Homo sapiens: one gene and its partner. The protein of the gene in region 2 purifies or fractionates together with the protein of the main gene of each other region. This does not show direct contact. Each region holds a gene or a part of one and is shown on either strand. Other genes may lie near its edges. The genes, in order: JMY and ZNF398.

Region 1 (3,821 bases), on a different chromosome or scaffold from region 2:
TGTTAGAGGGTCTGTATCGGGTAGAAGTGTGAAGGATTCTCTCAAAACATCCTTCTGTACCTTCTTCAATTTTACCCCTTTCCTTATTTGTGCCAAGATATTATTACTATCATCTTCATCAGGAAAAGGAGGCAGAGTTCGCTGTTCAACCTTTTTCAGATGAAAACTACCACGCTTCAAGGAGGCTAGCACCTCATCCATGGGTGAGCTCACTTTGGAAAATGAAACAGAACAGTATTACAGTTAGGACTGCACTTAATTAGAATGAAACTGTATAACCTCTACCGTTCGCAACTGTGAAAGCACAGGACGCTGAAACACCATCTTCAAAATGGATCATGAAATGTGTGCAGAAGGTGATCAGAACACAAGGGATCCTAATTATCCTTCTTTTTAGAAAATCCCAAGACCCAATCCATGGTGGGTACTGTTGGTATTCCTATCATTTCCTACATGAGAGAAGTGACCAGATTGGGAACTGGGAGGTGGTCTTAGTAGTATTATGGGTGTGATTCCCAAAGGATTTCCATATTGCAGTTGCTCCACCCAAATTCAGAGTGATGGGGTTACACATTTTGTTTTTAAAAATTAATTTTTGTTTATTATGGAGACTGTGCTTTTTTCATTTAGTTGTTTTACATGTGAAATCCTACTCAGATTACATCAAGAAATGTTTTATAGAATGGTCCTTCAGGTTAAAATGTAATATACAAGTAATATGTAACATTTATATAATGTTCTCCCCATGCAAAATGCAAATTCCTTAAAGGCAAAAGGCAAGGGTTATTCTCTGCTCTTTTTAGAAATAATTTTATTTGTGCTTGAATCTCTCTTAACAAAAAAAATTAGAAAAAAAAATAGTAACCTTATTGAGGCACATCTGTCACATTGTAAGTTGAACAGATTACTCCCTGTTCTTCTTTGCTTCTTTATACAAATACACAAAAGTCCTCAACAAATGTATGAACAAATGTTACATGATCCTGCCAATGTCTTCCCTGTGGTGACAGTCCTTACCAGATATCTTACCCTTTCTGATATGAGTATTTTTTTAAAAATCTCAGGTTTAAAATCAAAACTTTTTCCCTAACACAAAAGGAGCCACCCATTATACATTACCAAACATGAATGTATCACTTTAGAAGATCTGTTTTTAAAACATGCCTAACAGCCCAAGAAGGCATACATTTCTGTGTACTTTATGCACTAAGAATTCTCCTCTAGTGTGACTTTGAAAACCTGTTTACTATCAAATAATGTCAAAAATAAAGTGTTTTAAGCTTTGCAACGTCAAAAAATATAGTTTTTTACTATGCCTGATGTCATACAACAGATGGACCATGAAAATATGTTGACGTACCTCTCCTCCTCTGCAAACCTTCAGCAGTCTTTCTGAGCTTCTTCCGTGCACTGACCAGCTGGCTGCTGTCAAAGAGGTGTGCTGAGGGGGCACTGGCTGACTTTGGGATCCTCTTCTCATTCCCCTCCTTTCTAGGCAGATCTTTCTCCAGTGTCTCTGGGCCACTGTCCTTAGCAACAGGCAGAGGTGGTGGTGGTGGGGGAGGGGGAGGAGGTGGGGGAGGTGGTGGTGTTGGAGGAAGAGGGGATGGGAGTGGATTTATGGTAACAGAACATGGTTCGAGGTTGTTATTCAAAAGTGGAAGAGATATAGTGGGAGGCAGTTCAGAGGTAACACCACTGAGAGGTAATGAGGTGGCTTCAAGTTGTGTTAATGAAGTATCTTCAAGTTGCACAAGGCTCTGGGGTTCTGTTGTCTGTGATGGCCCACGCTTGACTCTTCCTTCTCCCACCTCTTCAGTTTTCTCTTCTACCTGTAACACACTTGGTAAAGAGTCACAATGATCCTCTTGGAGAACAGGACTTGCTGCACCTTTTCTTCTTGCATGAGCTAGTCGTAATCTGGTTGATTTAAGTATGACTTGCCCAGGATACCTCTAAAATACCAGAAGTTATTGGAACTGGTTAAATGTTATTGAAACAATTTATGAGCACATGCCTATTTATTTTCTCCTTCAAATAAAAGATGTTATGTGGCCGGGTGTGGTGGCTCACGCCTGTAATCCCAGCACTTTGGGAGGCCGAGGCGGGTGGATCACCTGAGATCAGGAGTTTGAGACCAGCCTGGCCGACATGGTGAAACCCCGTCACTACTAAAAATACAAAAATTAGCTGGGTGTGGTGGCAGGCACCTGTAGTCCCAGCTACTCAGGAGGCTGAGGCAGGAGAATTGCTTGAACCCGGGAGGCGGAAGTTGCAGTGAGCCGAGATTGTGCCACCGCACTCCAGCCTGAGTGACAGAGTGAGATTCCATCTCAAAAATGTTATGTTGGCTTATTGGTTATTTCACCCTTAAAGTTATACAGAAAATCCGAAAGTACCTAATAATAGCTTACAAACAATTATGAATTTATTATTTGCCTATCAAATCCACGATTGATAATTCAAATATTCAAAATTATGATTAAAAAAAGATTTTTAGTGAATAAAACTACTAAATGTATAAAACAAATAGCATGTAAAATGCAAAACATAAGTGATGTCAAATGTATAAATGCTACTGGTATGCAAAAAGTTTCCTATGTTTTCAAATGCACACACGAGAAAATTAAAATATTCTTTAACAGGTTACTTGGCATTTTTAAAAAGCTCCATCAACTATATATCCATTTTATGACAGAATGAAGAGAGAAATACATTTTTTTCAGTACTTACTGGTAGAACTCTTATATATATTTTACCATGGTAAGACCTTTTGTTTGTTTGTTTGTTTTTGAGACAGGGTCTCACTCTGTTGCCCAGACTGGAGTGCAGTGGTATGATCACAGCTCACTGCAGCCATGACCTCCCTGGCTCAGGTAATCCTCCCACTTCAGCCACCCAAATGGCCGGAACCACAGGCATGTTCCACCATGCCAGGCTAATTTGTATAGAGACAGGGTTTCGCCATGTTACCCAGGCTGGTCTTGAACTCCCCGGCTCAAGCAATCCACCTGCCTCAGCCTCATAAAGTGCTGGGATTACAGGCGTGAGCCACATTTACTTAATAACAAGGCTTTTCCCCTGCCTCACCTCCTTTTTTTCCACTGTAACACTTGTTCAAAAGCCTACTTCACCTACAAAGTGATCCTTCAGCATGCATAACTGAAGTAAGGCTCCAGAGTACTTTAAAAATGAGAACTGTGAGGCTTCAGCACAGTTCTGAGGAGATGTGTGGATACTGTGGTATCAGTGTGTGGTCATGGCTTACCCTGGCAAGAGAACTGCTGAAGCATTTCTCAAATATGCTGCTCCCCTCCACCTCTAATTCTGCCAATGGTCATTTGATGTATTACCACCACAGGCTGATGTATGTGGAATAAATAACATGCTGATGCTTGAGCTGGATAGTCAGTTGTGATTTAACTAATTTTTTAAACTCAAGAGGAATCTAGGTTTCCCAGAGGCCCTTATCATTCCTCTTATACTACTGAAGCTGTGGGTCAAAGGTCACAAGAATACTAAATTCGGAAAACCACCAGAGGAAATGGAGCCATGCCATTAAAACAATTTTAAAAAGGACTTCCATGGTTATAATAGTTTATAAATAAGGGAAAACCAAGTTTTTCCCACAAAGAAATCCTACAGGTGTATATGTAGCTCTGTTAAAAAAAAAAAAAAAAGAAAAACAATAAATGGACCATTACTTTTAATACCTGTTTAAATGTTCGAAGTCTATCCAGTGTTCTCTGTCTCTCTTGGCTAACCCAGGCACTTTTTCTTTCTTCTTCATCATGTAATTTTTCTCTCTTCTGGTAAAAAAT
Region 2 (3,821 bases):
AACTGTCTTTTCACAGCTGGCTAGTTTCTTCTCTGCTGTCCCTGTCCGACCTTCCAGGTGTAGGAGTCGCCGGCTGTGGATCTCCACCTTCCTCTCTATAGCCTGCACGGCGGCCACCACTGTCCACAGAGAGATAGCTGCTGTCTGCAGGTGTGCCTCATTTGCTGCTGGGGGTGTAGGAAGAGGAAGGGGCTGCAGGGATGTAAGGCACTCGGAGTCCCATTCAGATGTCTGCATGCAGTGGAAAGATGGAACAAGACATTGAGTGTTAGAAGGAACCCTAACTCCAAACTAAAATCAGATAAGGACTGCTTAACTGTCCAGCAGAGATTAATTTGAATATAGTTCTAGTACTGCCTGCGTATGCCTCATCTTTCTGGAGCTCACTGGCATCAACAGCCAAGAGACCTGATTTGGTGGTTCTGGGATAGATTGGGTAAGACAGTGAATTAATGAAATTGGCTCTTGAACTAGTCTGGTATATTTCCTCCGCTATAAGGCCCAGCTTAGGTTGCTGCAGCATCCTCTATCTCTGGAAAAGGCAAATGTGCACAAGGATCCTTTCCAGGCCTCACTGAACCTAGTGCCCTCTGATAAATCCATTATAGACTTATGCTCTAGACCTGTCAATCACCCTGTTTACAAACTACAACCACACCATTCAGTAATGGCTGAATAAGCTAAGAATCTTGAATCTGAAGAAAACATGAGAGCTGTTTTCAGATAATGAGGGTTACAAAACAGAAGGCAGAACAGCCTTGTTTCATCTTACACTATGTTACTCCAGAGGGCAGAACTAGAACCAACATAACGAAATTTTCAGACAGGCAAACTTTGGCCTACAATAAATACATTTTTTTCTTTTTAGAGACGGGGTCTTGGTGTCTCATTATGTTGCCTAGGCTGGCTCACTCAAGCAATCCTCCTGCCTCAACCTCCTAAGTAGCTGGGGCTACAGGTGTGTGCCATTGTGACCCACTAATAAATAATTGTTGAACTATTCAAAAAAAGAAATTCTTGCCGGTGCGGTGGCTCATGCCTGTAATCCCAGCACTTTGGGAGGCCGAGGTGGGCAGATCACCTGAGCTTGGGAGTGCGAGTCCAGCCTGGCCAACATGGTGAAATCCCGTCTCTACTAAAAGTACAAAAATTAGCCGGGTGATGGTGCACATCTGTAACACCAGCTACTCGGGAGGCTGAGACAGGAGAATCAGCTTGAACCTGAGAAGTGGAGGTTACAGTGAGCCAAGATTATGCCACTGCACTGCAGCATGGGCAACAGAGGGAGACTGTGTCTCAAAAAAAAAAAAAAAAAGAGGCTGGGCACGGTGGGTGGCTCACACCTGTAATCCCAGTACTTTGAGAGGCCGATCACCTGAGGTCGGGAGTTCGAGACCTGCCTGACCAACGTGGAGAAATCCCATCTCTACTAAAGATACAAAATTAGCCGGCCATCGTGGCAGATGCCTGTAATCTCAGCTACTCAGAGGCTGAGGCAGGACAATCGCTTGAACCCAGGAGACCGAGGTTTCAGTGAGCCGAGATCGCATCATTGCATTCCAGCCTGGGCAATAAGAGCAAAACTCCGTCTCAGAAAAAAAAAAAAAAAGAAATCTAGGCCAGGCGCGGTGGCTCACGCCTGCAATCCTAACACTTTGGGAGGCCGAGGGGGTGGATCACGAGGTCAGGAGATCGAGACCATCCTGGCTAACACGGTGAAACCCTGTCTCTACTAAAAATAGAAAAAATTAGCCAGGCGTGGTGGCGGGCGCCTGTAGTCTCAGCTACTTCGGAGGCTGAGGCAGCAGAATGGCGTGAACCCAGGAGGCGGAGCTTACAGCAACCCAACTTCGCGCCACTGCACTCCAGCCTGGGTGACAGAGTGAAACTCCGTCTCAAAAAAAAAAAAAAAGAAATCTTTAAGGGAAATCACATTATTAATTAATTAATTATTTATTTCTTGAGACAGAGTCTCGCTCTGTCGCCCAGGCTGGAGTACAGTGGTGCCATCTCAGCTTACTGCAACCTCCGCTGCCTGGGTTCAAGCGATTCTCCTGCCTCAGTCTCCCGAGTAGCTGGGACTACAGGAGCGTGCCACCATGCTCAGCTAATTTTTTGTATTTTTAGTAGAGATGGGGTTTCACCATGTTAGCCTGACCTCGTGATCCGCCCTCCTCGGCCTCCCAAAGTGTTGGCATTACGGGCGTGAGCCACCGTGCCCGGCCACATTATTTTATATATGATTTTAAAGTCTAAGATGGATAGTTTAAATGTTATCCACTTATTGCTTGAACCCAGGAGGCAGAGGTTACAGTGAGCCAAGATTCTGCTACTGTACTCCAGCCTACGCGACAGAACGAGATTCAGTCTCAAAAAAAAAAAAAGAAAAAAAAAGAAAGAAATTTTTGTTGAATGAATGAATAAATAAATAGGCTTGCATGCAAACCAGCCACCTCAGGATGTCTTCTATAGCTTAATTTTTTTTTTATTTTTTTATTTTTAGAGACAGGGTCACCGAGGCTGGAGTGCACTGACATGACCATAGCTCCTTGTAACCTATAACTCCTGGGTTATTGATCTTTCCAAGAAAATAAAAGGCTGCTCCAAAATAATTTACTTTGAAACAAAGAGTAGTATAAAAGGAAAAAATTCCCACAACAAATAAGTTGGACTAGGATGATGTATACAAAGCCTTCTAACTCTATGAACCTGATAAGCCACTCTCTGACGACAACCTCCCATCTTTCCAACTCACCCACTACTTTATTCTCATTTCACCTAGTCCTTTGACCATTCCATTTGCTCCTGGTATCTGCCCGTTCCTGGCTTTTTTTCTCTAATTGATCACATCAGTCACTTCCAACTCCCCTTCTCTCATGTCTTTCTGCCTCACCTGCTCAGCTAACCTCCGGCCTTGAATCAGTCCAATCATTCTTTCTCCATTCCTGTAAGCAGATTAGTAAGCGTGCCTAGAGGAAATCACCAGGTAAACTGCTGTCACCACATACCAATGGTTTCTAAGCTTAGTGGGGATCTCAACACTGACTTGTGCCCTCCATGCCGCTTGTCCCATTCCATAAAGTGGCTACTACAAAGCCTCAGCACAGTCCTTCAGCTTTTAGTACAGTTTGTCCTCAAACTAACATGAATAAGAATCAGCTGGAGGGGCCAGGCACAGTGGCTCATGCCTGTAATCCCAGCACTTTGCAAGGCTGAGACAGGTGGATCACCTGAGGTCAGGAGTTTGAGACCAGCCTGACCAGCATGGTGAAACCCTATCTCTACTAAAAAATACAAAAATTAGCTGGGTGTGGTGGCAAGCCATGTAATCCCAGCTACTCGGGAGACTGAGGCTAGAGAATCACTTGAACCCAGGAGGCGGAAGTTGCAGTGAGCTGAAATCGTGCCACTGCACTCCAGCATGGTGACAGAGCAAGACTCTGTCTAGGGCAGGAGGGGAGGCGGGGGGGCGCGGGAGGCGGGGAAGAATCACCTGGAGATCTTGTCAAAGTACAGATTTTTATTCAGTAGGTCTGTAAGGAAAACTGAGATTCTGTTGGGTTTTGTTTTTGTTTTTTTGGGATGAGGTCTCACTGTCACCCAGGCTGGAGTGCAGTGGTGTAATCTCAGCTTACCGCAACCTCCATCTCATGGGCTCAAGCGATTCTCCCATCTCAGCCTCCCGAGTAGCCGGGACCACAGGCACACACCACCATGCCCTGCTAATTTTTGTATTTTTGGTAGAGACAGGGTTTCACCATATTGCCTAGGCTGGTCTCAAACTACTCAGCTCAAGTGATCCACCTGCCTCAGCCTCCCAA

The links.
Region 1: the proteins of ZNF398 (region 2) and JMY purify together in Homo sapiens (affinity purification with mass spectrometry; one large-scale study listed by BioGRID and IntAct). This does not show direct contact.

Annotation. Positions count from the first base shown.
Region 1 is NC_000005.10:79,312,391-79,316,211, reverse strand, and holds part of JMY (junction-mediating and -regulatory protein), read right to left. Parts: intron 3,810-3,821; coding exon 3,714-3,809; intron 1,956-3,713; coding exon 1,361-1,955; intron 213-1,360; coding exon 1-212. UniProt on the Homo sapiens protein: Acts both as a nuclear p53/TP53-cofactor and a cytoplasmic regulator of actin dynamics depending on conditions. In nucleus, acts as a cofactor that increases p53/TP53 response via its interaction with p300/EP300.
Region 2 is NC_000007.14:149,150,355-149,154,175, reverse strand, and holds part of ZNF398 (zinc finger protein 398), read right to left. Parts: intron 3,202-3,821; exon of another isoform or gene 2,933-3,201; coding exon of another isoform or gene 2,894-2,932; intron 232-2,893; coding exon 1-231. UniProt on the Homo sapiens protein: Functions as a transcriptional activator.